Linked DNA regions of Homo sapiens. The protein of the gene in region 3 interacts with the protein of the main gene of each other region in a pairwise test. Each region holds a gene or a part of one and is shown on either strand. Other genes may lie near its edges. The genes, in order: DNAJC5, GOLM2, STX6, STOM and SNAP29.

Region 1 (3,519 bases), on a different chromosome or scaffold from region 3:
CTAGACCAGGTTTCTTCTAAGTATTTGGCATCACCAGGAAGAGCCCTGTACAAGGTGCTGGTGGTTTTATCCTTAGAGCCCAGATGTGAGGTGCTCACGTGTGTGCCTGGGGTTAGCAGTTGGTGTTTGTTGAATGAATGACTAAAATGCAGTGGGGCGGGGAGTCATGATAAGGTAGAATTTTATCTGAGGTGGAGTTTGCTTCTGAAATCAGGCAGTAAGGTGAATGTGATACCCAGTTAGGAGTATGTAATGCTGCAGGTAAACTGTAACAGCAAATGAAAGCAGTATTTCTCCAGGAAGGAAACAGACCCCTGGGTCCTCGGGCTGGGTTGGAAAAAGCCATTTGTAGAGAAATGGAACATGGTGGCTAGCCCTGCACAAGACATAGAGAAGAGACCCTTAACACTCCAGTTATCTCCAAGTGGGCAGTTAGAATGAGTGCTTCTAGGCCGGGCACGGTGGCTCACACCAGTAATCCCAGCACTTTGGGAGGCCGAGGCGGGCAGATCTTGAGATCGAGAGATCGAGACCATCCTGGCCAACATGGTGAAACCCTGTCTCTACTAAAAATACAAAAATAGCTGGGTGTGGTGGCGGGCACCTGTAATTCCAGCTACTAGGGAGGCTGAGGCAGGAGAATTGCTTGAACCCGGGAGGCAGAGGTTGCAGTGAGCTGAGATAGCACCACTGCACTCCAGCCTGGGCGACAGAGCGAGACTCCCTCTCACAACAAACAAACAAACAAACTGCAGTGCTTCTAAGGTGAGACTCATCGTGATGTTCTGATTAGAACGTTCTCGTGCCACAAAGTCCTGAGATGTGTCCAAGAAGCACCGTCTTCTGTCAGACACACCTCCTGCCCCGCCATAGGCCTTCCCACTGTGGCAGCAGAATCTGTGCTAGGCCTTCCTTCGTGAAAGAGGACAAGATCAGGGCTCACGTGACTGGGGCCGCTGTGACTCTGAGCCTCTGCGTTCTGTCAGATGAGGGTAGTGGTGCTTCCCCTGCGTCCTGCTGGGAGAAAAAAGGAGGCAGTAAATGAAAGGTGTCTCATCACCTGCTTCCTAAATAGAAGGGACAAAGAGGCTGAAAAACAGTAATAGTCTTGTTTTATGAAAATGCCACCCCTAATCTAGGAGCTGGGACTGCCATGCCAGGACCCCTCAGATAATGACATCCCTGAAGAGGATTAGCAGCTAGTCTGTTATCAGTCACAGGCAGTTCAACCCAGAAGATTTAAGGATTAGATTACCCAACAACCTTGAGTGTAGATTTTGTCTCTCATCACCCTTTGCATTAACTTTGGGTGCATGTGTGTTAATGAGGAAGTGTGTTCTGCTTTATTCTTGGTACATCACAGACATTTAATAGATACAGGTCATTAGAAATAAAAATTGTTTTAACTTGTATGAGTTTTGCAAGCATTGATATTTCAAATTGAAATTGCAGAAATTAGGACAGCATTTCATTTTCTTTTGTTTTTTTGAGACGGAGTCTCATTCTCTCACCCAGGCTGGAGTGCGGTGGCGTGACCTTGGCTCACTGCAACCTCTGCCTCCTGGGTTCAAGTGATTCTTCTGCCTCAGCCTCCCGAGTAGCTGGGACTACAGGCGGTCGCCACCACGCCAGGCTAATTTTTTGTATTTTTAGTAGAGACAGGGTTTCGCGGTGTTAGCCAGGATGGTCTCGATCTCCTGACCTTGTGATCCGCCCATCTTGGCCTCCCAAAGTGCTGGGATTGCAGGTGTGAGCCACTGCGCCTGGGCTTTTTTTTTTTTTTTTTTTTGGTTGGGGGACGGAGTCTCACTCTGTCACCCAGGCTTGAGTACAACGGTACGGTTTCCGCTCATGGCAACCTCTGCCTCCTAGGTTCAAGTGATTCTCCTGCCTCAGCCTCCTGGGTTGCTGGGATTACAGGCGCCTGCCATGACACCCGGCTAATTTTTGTATTTTTAGTAGAGATGGGGTTTTGCCATGTTGGCCAGGCTGGTCTTGAACTCCTGACCTCAGGTGATCCACCCACTTTGGCCTCCCAAAGTGCTGGGATTATAGGCGTGAGCCACTGAGCCCAGCCCCAAGTTGGTCTTGAGCTCCTGGACTCAAGTGATCGTCCAACCAGCATCTCATTTTCTAAAGAAAGAAGTACTTAGACCAGGTTTGGGACATGTCTCTGAAAATTCTGGGCTGGTGCAGTGGCTCATGCCTGTAATCCCAGCACTTTGAGAGGCCGAGGCAGGCGGATTGCTAGAGTCCAGAAGTGAAGACCAGGCTGGGCAACATAGCAAAACCCCATCTGTACTAAAACTAGAAACAATTAGCCGGGTATGGTGACATGCAGCTGTAGTCCCAGCTACTCGGAGGCTGAGGTGGTAGGATCACCTGAGCCTGGGAGGCTGAGGCTGCAGCAAGCCATGATTGCTCCACTGCACTCCAGCCTGGGCGACAGAGCAAGACACTGTCTCAAAAAAAAAAAAAAAAAAAAAAAGGAAGTTCTGTATTGATCAATAATTTCCTCCTCAGGACAGACCTGCATATGCCACAATTTAACTTTGTTGCAACATCATTCTACATTTTGCATGAATGGTTTCAAAAAACTTATTTCTATGACAGAGAACTTTGTCATTTATTCTTGACATATTAAACCTGAGTGACATTTTTAAATTTTTGTGTTGTGTTGTGAGTGCTTAGTGAAGATTCCTTGAATATGGATGTGAATGAATCTTATTTTTCATGGGTTTATAATTGTATTGTCCCTTTAAATATTCTACATTGAACATGTATCACCAGCAGAAATAATCATTTACGAGGTGAAGTGTCCAGAGCCATGTAGTGTCTGCATTGCTGTGTCCAGGGATTCTTTGTTTGTTTGAGACGGAGTCTCGCTCTGTCATCCAGGCTGGAGTGCAGTGGCACGATCGTGTCTCACTGCCGCTTCCACCTCCCGGGTTCAAGTGATTCTTCTGCCTCAGCCTCTTGAGTAACTGGAATTACAGGCGTGTGCCACCACGCCCAGCTAATTTTTGTATTTTTAGTAGAGATGGGGTTTCACCATGTTGTCCAGGCTGGTCTCAAACTCCTGAACTCAAGTAATCAACCCACCTTGGCCTCCCAAGGTGCTGGGTTTACAGGCATGAGCCACTGTGCTCAATCTGCGTTCTGAGGCATTCTGTGCCTGTTATGAAATCATGATGCTGGCAGGTCGGAAGATGGAATCGACTTCCCAGCCCCATCGGCTGTGCCCTGCCCTCCTTGCTGTCTCTAGAGCGCGGCTGACTTCGGGGAGAGCTCTCCCTGCCCTGTGCCTCTATTTTTTCACCAGGTAGGGTGGAAATGTGTTCTAGTGAAACTGCAGAACGAAAATATCCCGTCTTACTCTTGACCCTTGAAGAAGCAGGAGCTGAATTCAGGTGCCAGAGGCTGCGTCCGCGCGCTCCACATCAGTCTCAGAGTGGAGGCGAGCCCAGGCCAGAGGCCTCTACCCCGGACGAGGCTGCAGGTGCCTGACGGGAGGAGTGA
Region 2 (3,519 bases), on a different chromosome or scaffold from region 3:
TAGGTGTGAGCCGCCGCGCCCGGCCCCATCACAGATTTTTTTGACCAATAAATCTGCCCAGAATATAAGCTCCATGACAGTACAAACTGTCTTCGTCACCACTATATCCCCAACATCTAGAACATGCCTAGCATGTAAGAGAAGTTCAACAAAGATTTGATGAATTAATAAAATGGACTGGGCGCAGTGGCTCACGCCTGTAATCCCAGCACTTTGGGAAGTTGAGGTGGGCAGATCACAAGGTCAGGAGTTCAAGATCAGCTTGGCCAACAAGGTGAAACCCCATCTCTACTAAAAATACAAAAAATTAGCCGGGCGTGGTGGTGCGTGTCTATAATCCCAGCTACTTAGGAGGCTGAGATAGGAGAATCACTTGAATCTGGGAGGCGGAAGTTGCAGTGAGCTGAGATCGCGCCATTGCACTGCAACCTGGGTGACAGAGACTTCATCTCAAATAAATAAATAAATAAAATGAATCTCTTCAGATACAGTGATCTTCAACAGTGAGACCTTTTTATATGCATAGCACAAATAAAAATTGACACAAGTTAGGTAAGGTATTAAGAATATGTTATTTTTAGTTGCTCAAATTTTCTTTTCTTTTCTTTTATTTACTTATTTTGAGACAGAGTCTTGCTCTGTCGCCCAGCTTGGCCAACAAGGTGAAACCCCATCTCTACTAAAAATACAAAAAATTAGCCGGGCATGGTGGTGCGTGTCTGTAATCCCAGCTACTTAGGAGGCTGAGACAGAAGAATCTCTTGAACCTGGGAGGTGGAGGTTGCAGTGAGCTGAGATCAGGCCACTGCACTGCGGCCTGGGCGATAAGAGTGAAAACTCTATCTCAAAAAAAAAAAAAAAAAAAGTCCTGGCGCGGTGGCTCACGCCTATAATTCCAGCACTTTGGGCAGCCGAGGCGGGCGGCTCACGAGGTCAGGAAATCGAAACCAACCTGGCTAACATCGTGAAACCCCGTCTCTATTAAAAATACAAAAAAATAAAAATTAGCCGGGCGTGGTGGCGGGCACCTGTAGTCCCAGCTACTTGGGAGGCTGAGGCAGGAGAATGGCGTGAACCCGGGACGCAGAGCTTGCAGTGAGCCGAGGTCACACCACTGCACTCCAGCCTGGGTGACAGAGCAAGACTCCGTCTCAAAAAAATAAATAAATAAATAAATAAATAAATAATTTAAAAAATATATATATATACTTCTTAATAACATGTTCCTATAGAAAACTTGGAAAAATAGAAAAGCACAAAGAAATTAAACTTTAACTGTAGTACTACAACTTAAAGATAACCACTGTTATCATCTGAAGAGTATCTCTCTGGTGGGTTTTTTTTTATTTCTGTACATTATACTGTATACCTTAAAATTAGGGTTATATCATATATACTATCTTATAATCTTTTTTATTTGTATTTTACACATATTTTCCACGTCATTCCATTTTTCTCTACATTATTACCAAATGATAGTGCTGAATCAAAACTCTCAATTTTATAGTTTTGGCTAGAGAGATCTGGGTAAAAAATTGCCACAAGGGGCCAGGAAAGGTGGCTCACGCCTGTAATTCCAGCACTTTGAAAGACCGAGGCATGTGAGTCACTTGTGGCCAGAAGTTTGAGACCAGCCTGGCCAAAACAGCAAAACCCCATCTCTACTAAAAAATACAAAAAATTCAGCCTGGCGTGGTGGCACACGCCTGTAACCCCAGCTACTTGGGGGCCTGAGGCACCAGAATTGCTAGAACCTGGGAGGTGGAGGTTGCAATGAGCCAAGGCCGCGGCACTGCACTCCAGCCTGGGTTGCAGAGTCACAAGGATTATTTTTATTTTTTATTTTCTGAGACAGGGTTTTGTTCTGTTGCCCAAGCTGGAAGGCAATGGCAAAATCATCACTCACTGCAACTTCAACTTCCTGGGCTCAAGTGATCCTCCCAGCTCAGCCTCCCAAGTAGCTGGGACCACAGGCTTGCACTACTACACTTGGCTAATATTTTATTTTTTGTAGAGACGAGGTCTTACTATGTGGTCCGGGCTGGTCTCAAACTCCTGGCCTCAAGCAATTGTCCCACCTTGGCCTCCCAAACTGCTGGGATTATAGACGTGAGCCATCATGCCCAGCTCCCAAAAACTTTAGAGCCCCATAAACTGTAACAACTTAACTAGTTGGTGGATAGACTTTTACTGACATAAGAAAAAGCAGTGTGTATCCTGTAAACACTTTGATTTCTATGCTTTTATTTTGCCTTTTGTTTACTTTCCTTTTTTTGTTTTCTTGAAAAATTCCTTTTAGAAAACCCCAGCCTTGGTTTTGTTGAACTAAGGAGAAAGGTATTTATTTATACCTAGGATAGAATAGTTAGAGGGCTTCCCAGAGGCCAGAAGTAATAGTTATAAGCCCCACACCTACTATATACCTAAAAAATTAAAAATTAAAAAAAGAGGTAATTATTATAGTTAGTCGTACTGAAACAAACGATGATCTAGAAAAATGCTAGCTGACTTGGAGACAATTAAGAGTGCTAACCTTACCCTCCAATTTTGTATAGGAGATACTTGTGTATACATATACAAGTATCTATTTTTTTCCTCCACAAAAATGAGATTATGTTATACTTGTTTTCTTGTAACCTGTTTTCTTTTTAATTTAAAAAATCACAGATACAGATTGAGCACAGTGTCTCATGTCTGTAATCCCAATATTTTAGGAGGCCAAGGCAGGAAGATCATTTGAGCCCAGGGGTACCTAGCAAGACTCTGTCTCTACTAAAAGTAAATACAATTAGCTGGGTGGGGTGGCACACATCTGTAATCCAGCTACTCAGGAGGCTGAGATGGGAGGATCACTTGAGCCCAGGAGGCTAGGGCTGCAGTGAGCCACCACTGCACTCCAGCCTGGGTGACAGAGGGAAACACTGTCTTAAAAACAAGAAACAACATAGGTATCTTTGTTTTTTGTTTTGTTTTGTTTTGTTTTTTGAGACGGAGTTTTGCTCTTGTTGCCCAGGCTGGAGTGCAATGGCGCGATCTCGGCTCACCACAACCTCCGCCTCCCCGGTTCAAGCGATTCTCCTGCCTCAGCCGTCCCAAGTAGCTGGGATTATAGGCATGCGCCAAGCCCAGCTAATTTTGTATTTTTAGTAGAGATGGGGTTTCTCCATGTGGGTCAGACTGGTCTCGAACTCCTGACCTCAGGTGATCCGCCCACCTCGGCCTCCCAAAGTGCTGGGATTACAGGCGTGAGCCACCACATCCGGCCCAACATATATATCTTTGTATGCCAATAAATATAGCTCAGCATCATCCTTTTTAGTGGCTACATATTACACTTTTATGGATATAACAAATTTAATGAACCCTCCCTATAAGATTTCCATGGTTTTTAATTTATCATTATAAACCATTTATGATAAGCATTCATTTTTTTAATTTTTTTGAGAAGTCTTGCTGTGTTACTCAGGCTGGAGTGCACCAGTGTGATCACAGCTGACTGGAGCCCCGACCTCCGGGGCT
Region 3 (3,519 bases):
TAGTTATGGCTTGGAATTTTGTTTTAGGCTATGAGTGAAATGTCAAGTTGCAAATTTTCAAGGAATAGCAGGATCAGGGCTCTCTAAGCACTCCAGCAGGCATGGGCCTTGCCACGTTGTGCCAGGTGCCAGGCTCTGTGCTGCTCCTTGCCTCACCAGCACCCCTGCTCTGGCACCCACACACAGGTGCATCTTCCAGTCCTTGGGCCCTCTCTCAATCTCTATCCTATTATCACAAACATTTGGGATCAGACTGATGAACTTTAAGCTATTTCACAATAAAACGTGGATGATTTGCCCTATACTTAGCTCTACCTAAGTGTACACCATGGAAAACGTAGGAAAAATAGCCCTGTGACCTCAGGAGCACACAAGGCCCTGGTGGTGTCCCAGTTCTCTGTCCTTAGGCCAGTGATGCATTATAGCATTTTTCTGACCCTAAAAAAATTGTCACTATTTCCTCATGTCTTCCATAGAGGTCCTTAGAGTGTGGATCATAATGAGCAGGATCTTTTCAGTCTTGATAGCCCTAAGACCAGGTCAGGGCAGAGCCACCCACAAAAAGCCTTGGATCTGCTTTACACCAGAGACAGTCACCATCCAGCTGGACTGAAGCTCTGGGCCCCTGGAAGCTCTTGTAAGAAAAGCTTCTAATAACTGAGCTTCCCTGATCCTAGCCCCTGAAGTCTGGCCATTTGATGGAGTTCACCCCTCGCAGTCTGAGAAGAGGTCAGTGTCAGTATGGAGGAAGGTCATGGGGCTGTTGGAAGGGTTTTCAGACAGAACCAAGTAACCAGGCAGGCTTTTAATAGTGCCTGAGATTTTTTTTAAATTACCCGATAGGAAAATTTGGCAACTCTACAAGGAAAAAGAGTCTTAGTTGCTAGCGTCTTCTGGCTCTTGCCTGCGGGGCTGGTGTGAGCAGTTACTTTGACCAGTCAGGAAGGCTTGTGGGGATCTGGTCAGAACCAACTGCTGAGATGGAACTCTCACATTCCTGCCTGTCTTCTTCATGTGAGGAAGACATACCCATTTATGGCTGCAAACTTCCTTGAATTCATACTTGGGAAACCCGACCCTTGTGTCTGGGAGCCCTGGTGGAGAACTCTGACTTTAGGGCAGCCCTTGCCTCGGTTGCCAGGGTCAGGCATTCCTTGTGGTCATACCTGCCTGTAAAGTAACCCCCAGTTGTCATCTGGAAAGCCTGAAGGACCCTGGATTCTATTCATGGGTTAAACTTAACAGACATTGATGGTTCTTGTGCCTTTGTGTGTGAAGGGCTATGGCTTACCTTCTTGTCATTCCAGGGAACTCTCCCTTTCCCCCCACCAAAAAAACCCACAACTTCCCCTGGGTCACACTTTTTTTAAAAAAGTACTCTAGATCTTCGGAATCAGGTTGACTGGAACCTATGGGTTGCTGAAGTTCCACAGGTACCAGGAAGAGCTCTTTTACAAGAGATTGAATGCTTTTCAATTATAACACAGTATATAGATGGGTGTTTGTTGATTTAGCAGACGTTTATTTGCACTTTAAGGGGACAAAGCCCATTGTGAGGCCTATTGGGAGAGCTTAAAGACATAGAGGGCCCTTCCTGGAATTCCTTAAATAGTACCACCCAGGCACCAACCTACACCACTACATAAAAGCCTTGCCCAGGGGAAAATAGACAAGAAATGTGAAAACTCTTTATATCACTCTTGATGCATCACTTGTTCAGAGATAGTAATTGTTTGTTTCTCCTGACTCCTCTGGTTGTTCTTCTCACACAGGCACTGCTGGGAGACAGTGGCAGCCAGAACTGGAGCACTGGAACAACAGATAAATATGGGCGTCTGGACCGAGAGCTCCAGAGAGCCAATTCTCATTTCATTGAGGAGCAGCAGGCACAGCAGCAGGTACCCCAAGGACCCCAGACTTAGGACGGGCCAGTGGGAAACAAGACACCCCCTTAGTTCCTTTGCCAGCCATGGGGTCTTGTGGCTTAGTGACAAGGAGGGTAAGCCAGAGCTTGTCCTGTGTTGATTGTGTTTAATAATTGCATATGTAAAGGGTTTCAAAATCTTCACAGTGTGACTGCTTCAAGAGAACCAAGCTCAGCCAGGCGTGGTGGCTCACACCTTTAGTCCTAGCTACTGAGGAGGCTGAGGCTGGAGGATCCTTGAGCCCAGGAGTTCAAGGCTACAGTGAGCTTCGATCATGCCATTGCATTCTAGCCTGGGTGACAGAGCAAGACCCTTTCTCTAAAAAAATAAAGAACCAAGCTCAGTTAGTTCTCTTAGAAAAAACAGACCTTTGTCCATCTCAGCAAAGACACTTTCAGAAAGATCTCTCATTTTTTTCTTCGAAAATTATTGATTGGTTTCTTTTTTTTTTTTTTTTTTGTGAGACGGAGTCTCACTCTGTCACCCAGGCTGGAGTGCAGTGGCACCATCTCGGCTCACGGCAACCTCCGCCTCCCGAGTTCAAGCAGTTCTCCTGCCTCAGCCTCCTGAGTAGCTGGGACTACAGGTGCACGCCACCACGCCCAGCTAATTTTTTTTTTGTATTTTAGTAGAGACGGGGTTTCACCTTGTTTCTCAGGCTGGTCTCGAACTCTTGAGCTCAGGCAATCCACCTGACTCAGCCTCCCAAAGTACTAGGATTACAGGCATGAGCCACCGCGCCCGGCCTATTGGTTGGTTTTGTTATATGTAAAGATGACTGCTTTTGTGTAGGTTAAGGGGTAGAAGGAAAATGAAATTGATTATGTCTGTTGATGCCTTTGATATGTAGCTGTATTAATAAAAGCAAGCTAATGATAATGTGTCTGGGGATTTGAGGAGCATGTACCCATTGAAACTATTGATTCTTAAATATTGTGTTTTATGTATACATGTAGTTTATATGTTCTTTTGTTCTTTACATTAGTATGTCTGCTTAACCAGTTGTCTACTTAAATTGCTATTAAACCCAGGAAATTTTTTTTCTATAGAAAGTGAGAAGAATGCAACACAACTAAAAGTAAATATTTGTCAGTCAGTAGTTGTCCTTGAGGTAACTTATTGCCACAGGGAATCCTTTCGTTTGTCCTTGAAGAGAGAGGAAAGACTGCATAGTTTCCCCACATCCAGAGATTTGCCAGACTCTCTTGTATTTAAGCTGTGGCAGTCTGTTGTGGATTGAGACCTTGATCTTGGCAATGGGCTTCCTCCTCCCAAACATCCCCATGTCTCAATGGTCATCTGCACGTGTGCTTTCAACCATTGTCTGCTCCATTATTGGACGTCAGCCAACCAGAGTAAATCTCTCTTGGTGGTTTCAAGCCCCGCTGACTGTTCACAAGTTGGATCAGCAGGAGATATCAGTAGCTTAACAATCCAGCCTTTTGAGCAGTGTGTTCTCAGAGGCAACGGTCTGGTCCTTTGATTTCTGGGCTTTGCTTCTGAATGTGAATTGTCCCAAGTTGGCAAAGAAACTAGCAGCTGCTAGAGTGCTGGGCTTGGAACCAGGTAAGATGGATTTTAATTGCTTATTTCC
Region 4 (3,519 bases), on a different chromosome or scaffold from region 3:
CTTTGGGAGGCTGAGGTGGGTGGATCACCTGAGGTGAGGAGTTCAAGACCAGCCTGGCCACCATGGTGAAACCCCGTCCTTACTAAAAATACAAAGAGTAGCCTGGTGTGGTGGTAGGCGCCTGTAATCCCAGCTACTGGGGAGGCTGAGAAGGAGAATTGCTTGAACCCTGGAGGTGGAGGTTGCAGTGAGCTGAGATTGCGCCACTGCACTTCAGCCCAGGCGACAGAGCAAGACTTCTTCTCAAAAAAATTAAATTAAATAAAAAATTAATAATAATAAAAACTTAAAAAAAAATGAAACTTGTTTGCCATCCCACTATTCAAAGGAAAAATTGAAGCTCTGAAAAGTTAAGTGACGTCCGCAAGGTCGCACAGTTGATTAGTAGCAGTGGAAATTAGAATTCCCCTCTGCTCCTCATTGCCTCCTCTAGTACTGACTTCCCAGGATGGGCTATGAGCCTCTTCCATAGCATTCTTAAGAGTTTGGAAAGAAAATTTCTATCTTCCCTTTATAACAGTAAGAAAAGATAGAAGAAACCGCTTAGAATTCTGAATTGCCATGCTCCCACTTGGACGGGGCTGTAGGGTTAGTCTAGAAGCAGTCTCATGAACCTGGGCAGTGACTGTCTTGGAGTTCACACATAGAATCACAATGAGCCTAGCCCTTCTGTAAAATACAGTAACCCTGCAACAACCATAGGCTTATTGTATTGAAATTCTCATGGAAAATAGGGGGGTCACAGTTTCTTCAACAAATAAATTGCACAGGAAAGGTGAGATAGAGTGGAATAATCTAAAGATTAAGAGACTTTATAGAAAAATTCCTTAGGCTAATTAGCCATCGGGGAAATGCAAATTCACATTATAAGCGGATGTCACACTAGACAGCTATCAGAATGGCCTGAAAAGAACGGAAAAGAACCAAGTGTGGGTGAGAGAGGAACTAGAACTCTCATATTCTGCTGGTGGCAGTGTAACTTAATACAACCACTGTGGAAAACAGTCTGGCAATGTCTATTCATACTGAACATTTGTATACCCTATGAGCCAGCAGCTCCAACTCCTAAGTATGAATCTAACAGAAATGCACTCATATGTTTACCAAAAGGCATGTACTAGAATGTTCACAGCAGCACATTGACCCAAACTGTAGAATACCCAAATGTCCATTCCTAGCTGAATGAATGAAGTCTGGTTTATTCACATGTAGGCATACTACATAGCAAAGAGAATGAATGTAAGTGCTCACACACATAATTTGAGTGAAAGAAGCCGGTCACAGAAGAGGACAGATTCTCCTACGTGTTTCTCTGTATGTTAGGTTTGGTTTTTAAAGTGTTTAGACCAGCTCTTAGTGGCCTGAAATGTAATATCTTTTGTGTTTGCATCAGCTTTTATTTCCTTTTCATAACTCTCAGAAAAACACCTGGCACATGCTTTTGGGCTCATGTTTCTGGGTGTAGAAGTCTATTAATTGAGAGGATGGAGTGCAGAAATACAGATCACCTTTCTCTGCCTTTTCCTCTGCCCAGACCACCTGGTCTGCAGAAGGGACAGGTAGCACCAATTTCACATACATGAAAATGCCAGACTTTAAAATGATGTTCTATAAATATGAAATGTTGATTGCTATGAGATTACTGCACATTCGACAAAAGCCGTGCACACCCACAAATAGCTTGCTTTGCTCTCTAAGATCCTATCAACGGAGTGTACTTGGCCTGTATTTAGACAAAGCCGGTGGTGTTGTTTACATCTTTGGCAGCTTGCTCAGTGTGGCTTTTCTATGAACAAAATGTGTGCCCAGCCCGGTGGGTCTGGCTTCTCAGCCAAGCGATTGTGTATTGATTGGTGGTGGGAAATGAGATATCTTTTCAGTTGGTCCATGTCCAAAGAAAAAAGTGCCTAATTGGACATCTGAGATGATATGGAAAAAATGAGAGCCTGCTGCTCTCATAGCAGGGGATTTCTGATGTATTCTCTGTAGTGCCTACCTTGGAATACAGTTCTGTGGTTTTCTTTGAGCAAAGCTGGCACTTGTCCCTTCTCACAGACCTAGGCAGGACATGATGTGTGGCTTTGATAAATTAAGGTTTTTATCCTATAAGCTGGATCCTTTCTCTCAGTGAGTACTATATTCTGTATCCTATCTCCATTAATGGCACTAATCTATGCAACCAAAACCTGGAAACCTGGGTCTCAGCCTGTGTCCCCCTTTCCTCCTCCTACCTAGTCTCCAAATTCCACTGATTCGCCCTCCTTCGGGGAGGGAGAATAGCTCCCCAAACCATTTCATTCTCTGTCCCCACCACCTATGAATCGCACCGGCCACTCTAAAGCAGTTCCACTAGCAGCTTTCACTGCCTTCTCTTCTAACCTCAGACATCTGTCAGAGAGCTTTTTCAAACTAGATCTGATGGAGTTTACTTACCTGCTTAAAATCATTCTGCAGCTTCCCATTGCCTACAGAATGAAGACCAAACACCCTGGCCCTCACTGCCCTTCAGAACCCGGCCCCATTCATCCCCCACCTTTCCCCTCTTCCTGCCATAGTATTCAGCCATTGACAGTTTTCTGGAATATACCATTTTTATACCTCAGTACCGTTTCATGTGTTCTGCCCAAAATATTCTTCCTCATCTTTTTCTAAACAGCAAACATTTTATCATTTAATATTCAACTTCTATAACCTCACCACGTCACCCTCTGGAAAAGTTGCTTTCTTCTGTTTGCTTGCACTGTGCCTTGTACATATGTCTGTCAGCATTTATCACACTAGAATGAAATGATCTACTTCCATGTCTGCCTTCCCTACCTGACCAGGAGCTGAAGAAGGCTAGGGATTCCACTCTATCCTTAGCTTTTCCTACACAGGGCTTATTAACCCTAGAAGGCCCCCAAATTTTGCTGTGTGAGTGAATGAAATCTCACTGGGCATAAGACCATCACCTCCAATTCTGATATTCATGGAGTATTATGGACCATTAATTATTCAAGATTCAAGTGAGGATAATAACCTGGAGAAATTGTACTTTTAATCTTGATAATTATGGTGTCTTAATACCTTTCCTTCTTCTAGGATTATGAATTAAAGTAACTACCTTGAATCTTTTGTGCATTAAAGCATAGTTGGACCCAAAAATCAGGTCTTGTCACTTGCCATTCCTCTATAATAGCCCCCTTTATTCATTTAACACTTTATATACTTTCTCTGTCTTCCTCACAAGTGGTCCTCTGAAGTACATGTTAGTCTGCTTTAAGAATGGGAAACTGAGGTTCAGGATGTTCAGTAACCTCTCTGAGGACATTCGGCTGGTAAATGTTAGATTTGGGATTTGAACTCAAGTCCATTTGACTCCAGAACTCCTGTTCTGTCTACTACTCGAGTGATCTTCAAACTTTTTTGCCTGTGAAACCCCTTACAGAATTTAGAAAAACTATAAAGTCCATCAAACATTTTAAATCGGCATGTAAAAATTTTTCATCTTGAATTTATGTACTTGCCAAGAATATAATT
Region 5 (3,519 bases), on a different chromosome or scaffold from region 3:
CGTTCTCCTGCCTCAGCCTCCCGAGTAGCTGGGACTACAGGCGCCTGCCACCATGCCTGGCTAATTTTTTGTATTTTTAGTAGAGACGGGGTTTCACCGTGTTAGCCAGGATGGTCTCGACCTCCTGACTTCGTGATCCATCCGCCTCCGCCTTCCAAAGTGCTGGGATTACAGGCGTGAGCCACCACATCCGGCCTAATTTTTGTATTTTTAGTAGAGATGGGGTTTCACCATGTTGGCCAGTCTGGTCTCAAACTCCTGACCTCAGGTGATCCACCTGCCTCAGCCTCCTAGAGTGCCGAGCCACCACGCCAGGCTTTTTTTTTTTTTTTTTTTTTTTTTTTGAGACAGAGTCTCACTCTGTTGCCCAGGCTGGAGTGCAGTGGCACCATCTCAGCTCACTGAAACCTCTGTCTCCCAGGTTCAAGCAATTCTCTTGCCTCAGCCTCCTGAGTAGCTGGGATTACAGGCATGTGTCACCATGCCTGGTTAATTTTTGTATTTTTAGGAGAGATGGGGTTTCTCCATGTTGGCCAGGATAGTCTCGAACTCTTGATCTCAGATGATCCGCCCGCCTCAGCCTTCCAAAGTGCTAGGATTATGGGCGTGAGCCACCACACCTGGCCTCTCTCTTTGTTTTAATTCTGTAATGTGGAGCTTTTCTTTTTCATTTTATTTATTTATTTTTTAAGAGATGAGGTCTTGCTGTGTTGGCCAGGTTGGTCTTGAACTCCTGGCCTCAAGCAGTCCTCCCACCTCGGCCTCCCAAAGTGCTAGGATTACAGGCATGAGCCACCACACCTAACTGCAGAGCCGTTTTTTTTAATGCATCACTAAGGTACAGTAAAATATGTGCATCTTAAGTGGAGAGCCAGTGACTGTGAACCTGTGTACACTAGTGTGGCCACCACCCAGATCAAGATGTAGGGTGTGGCAGGGAGGAAATTAGATAACTACTTCAAACTCAGAGTGGGGCTGGGGAGAAACCAGTGTAGGTAACAAAGCTGGTGGTGATGGCAGAAAGAACAGGCAGGCGAAGCCATCAAGAGTTATGGAGAGGTTCAGGCATGGTGGCTCATGCCTGTAATCCCAGCAATTTGGGAGACTGAGGCAGGAGGATCACTTGATCCCAGCCTGAGCAACATGACAAAACCCCGTCTCTACAGAAAAACACAAAAATGAAGTTGGGCATGGTGGTTCAGGCCTGTAATCCCAGCACTTTGGGAGGCCGAGGCGGGTGCATCGTTTGAGGTCAGGAGTGTGAGACCAGGCCAGCCAACATGGTGAAACCCAGTGTCTCCTAAAAATACAAAAATCAGCCAGGCATGGTGGTGCCTGCCTGTAGCCCCAGCTACTTGGGAGGCTGAGGAGGAGAATCCCTTAAGCCTGGGAGGCAGAGGTTGTAGTGAGCGGAGATTGCACCACTGCACCTCAGCCTGGGTAACAGTGAGACTCTGTCTCAAAAAAAAAAAAAAAAAAAAAAAAAAAAAGGCCGGGCATGGTGAGTCACGCCTGTAATCCCAGCACTTTGGGAGGCCAAGGCCAACGGAGCACGAGGTCAGGAGATTGAGACCATCCTGGCTAACACGGTGAAACCCCGTCTCTACTAAAAATACAAAATATTATCCGGGTGTGGTGGCGGGCGCCTGTGGTCCCAGCTACTCGGGAGGGTGAGAAATGTGTATGGCGTGAACCCAGGAGGCGGAGCTTACAGTGAGCTGAGATCACGCCACTGCAACAGTGAGCTGAGATCACGCCACTGCACTCCAGCCTGGGCGACAGAGCAAGACTCTGACACACACAGACACACACAGACACACACACACACACACACACGAAAATTAGCCACACACACACACACACACACACACACACACACACACACACACACACGAAAATTAGCCGGACATGGTGGTACGTGCTTGTGGTCCCAGCTACTGAGGTGGCTGAGGTGGACCCGACCTTTTGGCTTAGGTGGGAGGATCACCTGAACCCAGGGAGGTTGAGCCTACAATGAGCTATGATTGTACCAGTCTACTCCAGCCTGGGTGACAGAGTGAGACCCTATCTCAAAAAAAAAAAAAAAAAAAGTACTGCAGGAGGGACCTGCAGAGTTGGCCCTGGGAACCTGCCGGCCTCAGTGAGTGCCCTGGGGAGGCACTAGCTAAGGTTATGAGGGTTGGTTGGTTTTTTTGGCTCAGCCATAATCACCATTCTGGGTTCTCCAGCTCAACCCTAATTTTAAACATCCGCCATTTCCCTCCAGTTCTAGTCGTTGCTTGTTTTTTGTTGTTTTTTTTTCAATATACATATCAGAAAGATGTTTTATATCCTAATCTTTGGCCACATTTAATTGCCATAGGAGAAGGTAGGATGTTCATTTGTTTTGGTCTAAGACATCCTCCATGTACAAACTCAGGAGCAGAGTGAGCCCTTGGAGGAGTGGGAAGCTGGCAAGTTTGTGACTAGCACCCTTTCACACCCTTCCACATCCTACATACCTCTTCACAAAGGCTGCTTCTGGGGCTCTTGGAGGCCCCTGCATCCCTGAACATAGCTATGAAAGCCATGGAAGTCCTGTGGCTCCAGGGGCAGTTTTCTTTTTTTGGAGCATCATGAAAACTCAGGGGCTTCCCAGCAAAGGCTTCCATCAGTGAGGCAGCCATAGTTATTTCAGTGAGGTGGGCTTTGTCTCTTGGGAAGTCCTGTTTGTCCTTGCTGACAGCTTTCCAAGCTGCTTGTTCTCATTTCCACTTAAAGCTGATGCGTTCCCGTCAAGGTCCCCAAAGTCATGTACCCTGCCTGGCCTGCCCCTAGATTAGCCCCAATCAGTTGTAGCATTCTTGCCATCTCTTAGTAAATTCAAGAAAGCAAAACTTTCACCCACACTCTGCAGTTCTGTGGGAGCAGAAGCTGCAGGAATGCAGTCTGTCTGTTGGAAGATATGGGGGAGGCAGACAGTCCACAGGGATGCAGTGGGGACCCAGAGGAGAGGGAGGTTGGCCCTGGGAACAGAGGAAGGCTGCACAAAGGACCTGACTTTTTGCAGAAGGTGAAGGTTTTGAGGGAACCCACCAATTGAAGGAGGGGTTGGTGCAGGCACATGGCAGTAAAAGCACAGGGGAAGCCGGGATGAAGGAAGTTGTTGGCCATTTCAAGGGCCCAGCAGGGCCAGACACAGTGGCTCATGCCTGTTATCCCAACATTTTATAAGGCCAAGGCAGGACAATCACTTGGGGCCAGGAGTTGAAGATCAGCCTGGGCAACATAGCAAGATTCTGTCTCTACAAACATAAAAAATTTTTAAAGCTGGGCATGGTGATACAGGCCTGTAGTCATATTTACATGGACGACCAAAAAAAAAAATGGGGGGGCGGCTGGGTGCAGTGGCTCACGCCTGTAATCCCAGCACTTTTGGGAGGCTAAGGTGGGCGGATCACGAGGTCAGGAGATCGAGACCATCCTAGCTAACACGGTGAAACCCCGTCTCTACTAAAAATACAAAAAATTAGCCAGGGG

The links.
Region 1: the proteins of STX6 (region 3) and DNAJC5 come close enough for resonance energy transfer, tested with the Homo sapiens proteins (one study listed by BioGRID).
Region 2: the proteins of STX6 (region 3) and GOLM2 interact in a two-hybrid assay, tested with the Homo sapiens proteins (one large-scale study listed by BioGRID).
Region 4: the proteins of STX6 (region 3) and STOM interact in binary tests that used the Homo sapiens proteins (3 or more experiments, as listed by UniProt).
Region 5: the proteins of STX6 (region 3) and SNAP29 interact in binary tests that used the Homo sapiens proteins (3 or more experiments, as listed by UniProt).

What each region holds. Positions count from the first base shown.
Region 1 is NC_000020.11:63,898,112-63,901,630, forward strand, and holds part of DNAJC5 (dnaJ homolog subfamily C member 5), read left to right. Parts: intron 1-3,519. UniProt on the Homo sapiens protein: Acts as a general chaperone in regulated exocytosis. Acts as a co-chaperone for the SNARE protein SNAP-25. Involved in the calcium-mediated control of a late stage of exocytosis. May have an important role in presynaptic function.
Region 2 is NC_000015.10:44,375,701-44,379,219, reverse strand, and holds part of GOLM2 (protein GOLM2), read right to left. Parts: intron 1-3,519.
Region 3 is NC_000001.11:180,988,363-180,991,881, reverse strand, and holds part of STX6 (syntaxin-6), read left to right. Parts: intron 1-1,772; coding exon 1,773-1,898; intron 1,899-3,519. UniProt on the Homo sapiens protein: SNARE promoting movement of transport vesicles to target membranes. Targets endosomes to the trans-Golgi network, and may therefore function in retrograde trafficking.
Region 4 is NC_000009.12:121,342,735-121,346,253, reverse strand, and holds part of STOM (stomatin), read left to right. Parts: intron 1-3,519. UniProt on the Homo sapiens protein: Regulates ion channel activity and transmembrane ion transport. Regulates ASIC2 and ASIC3 channel activity.
Region 5 is NC_000022.11:20,872,504-20,876,022, forward strand, and holds part of SNAP29 (synaptosomal-associated protein 29), read left to right. Parts: intron 1-3,519. UniProt on the Homo sapiens protein: SNAREs, soluble N-ethylmaleimide-sensitive factor-attachment protein receptors, are essential proteins for fusion of cellular membranes.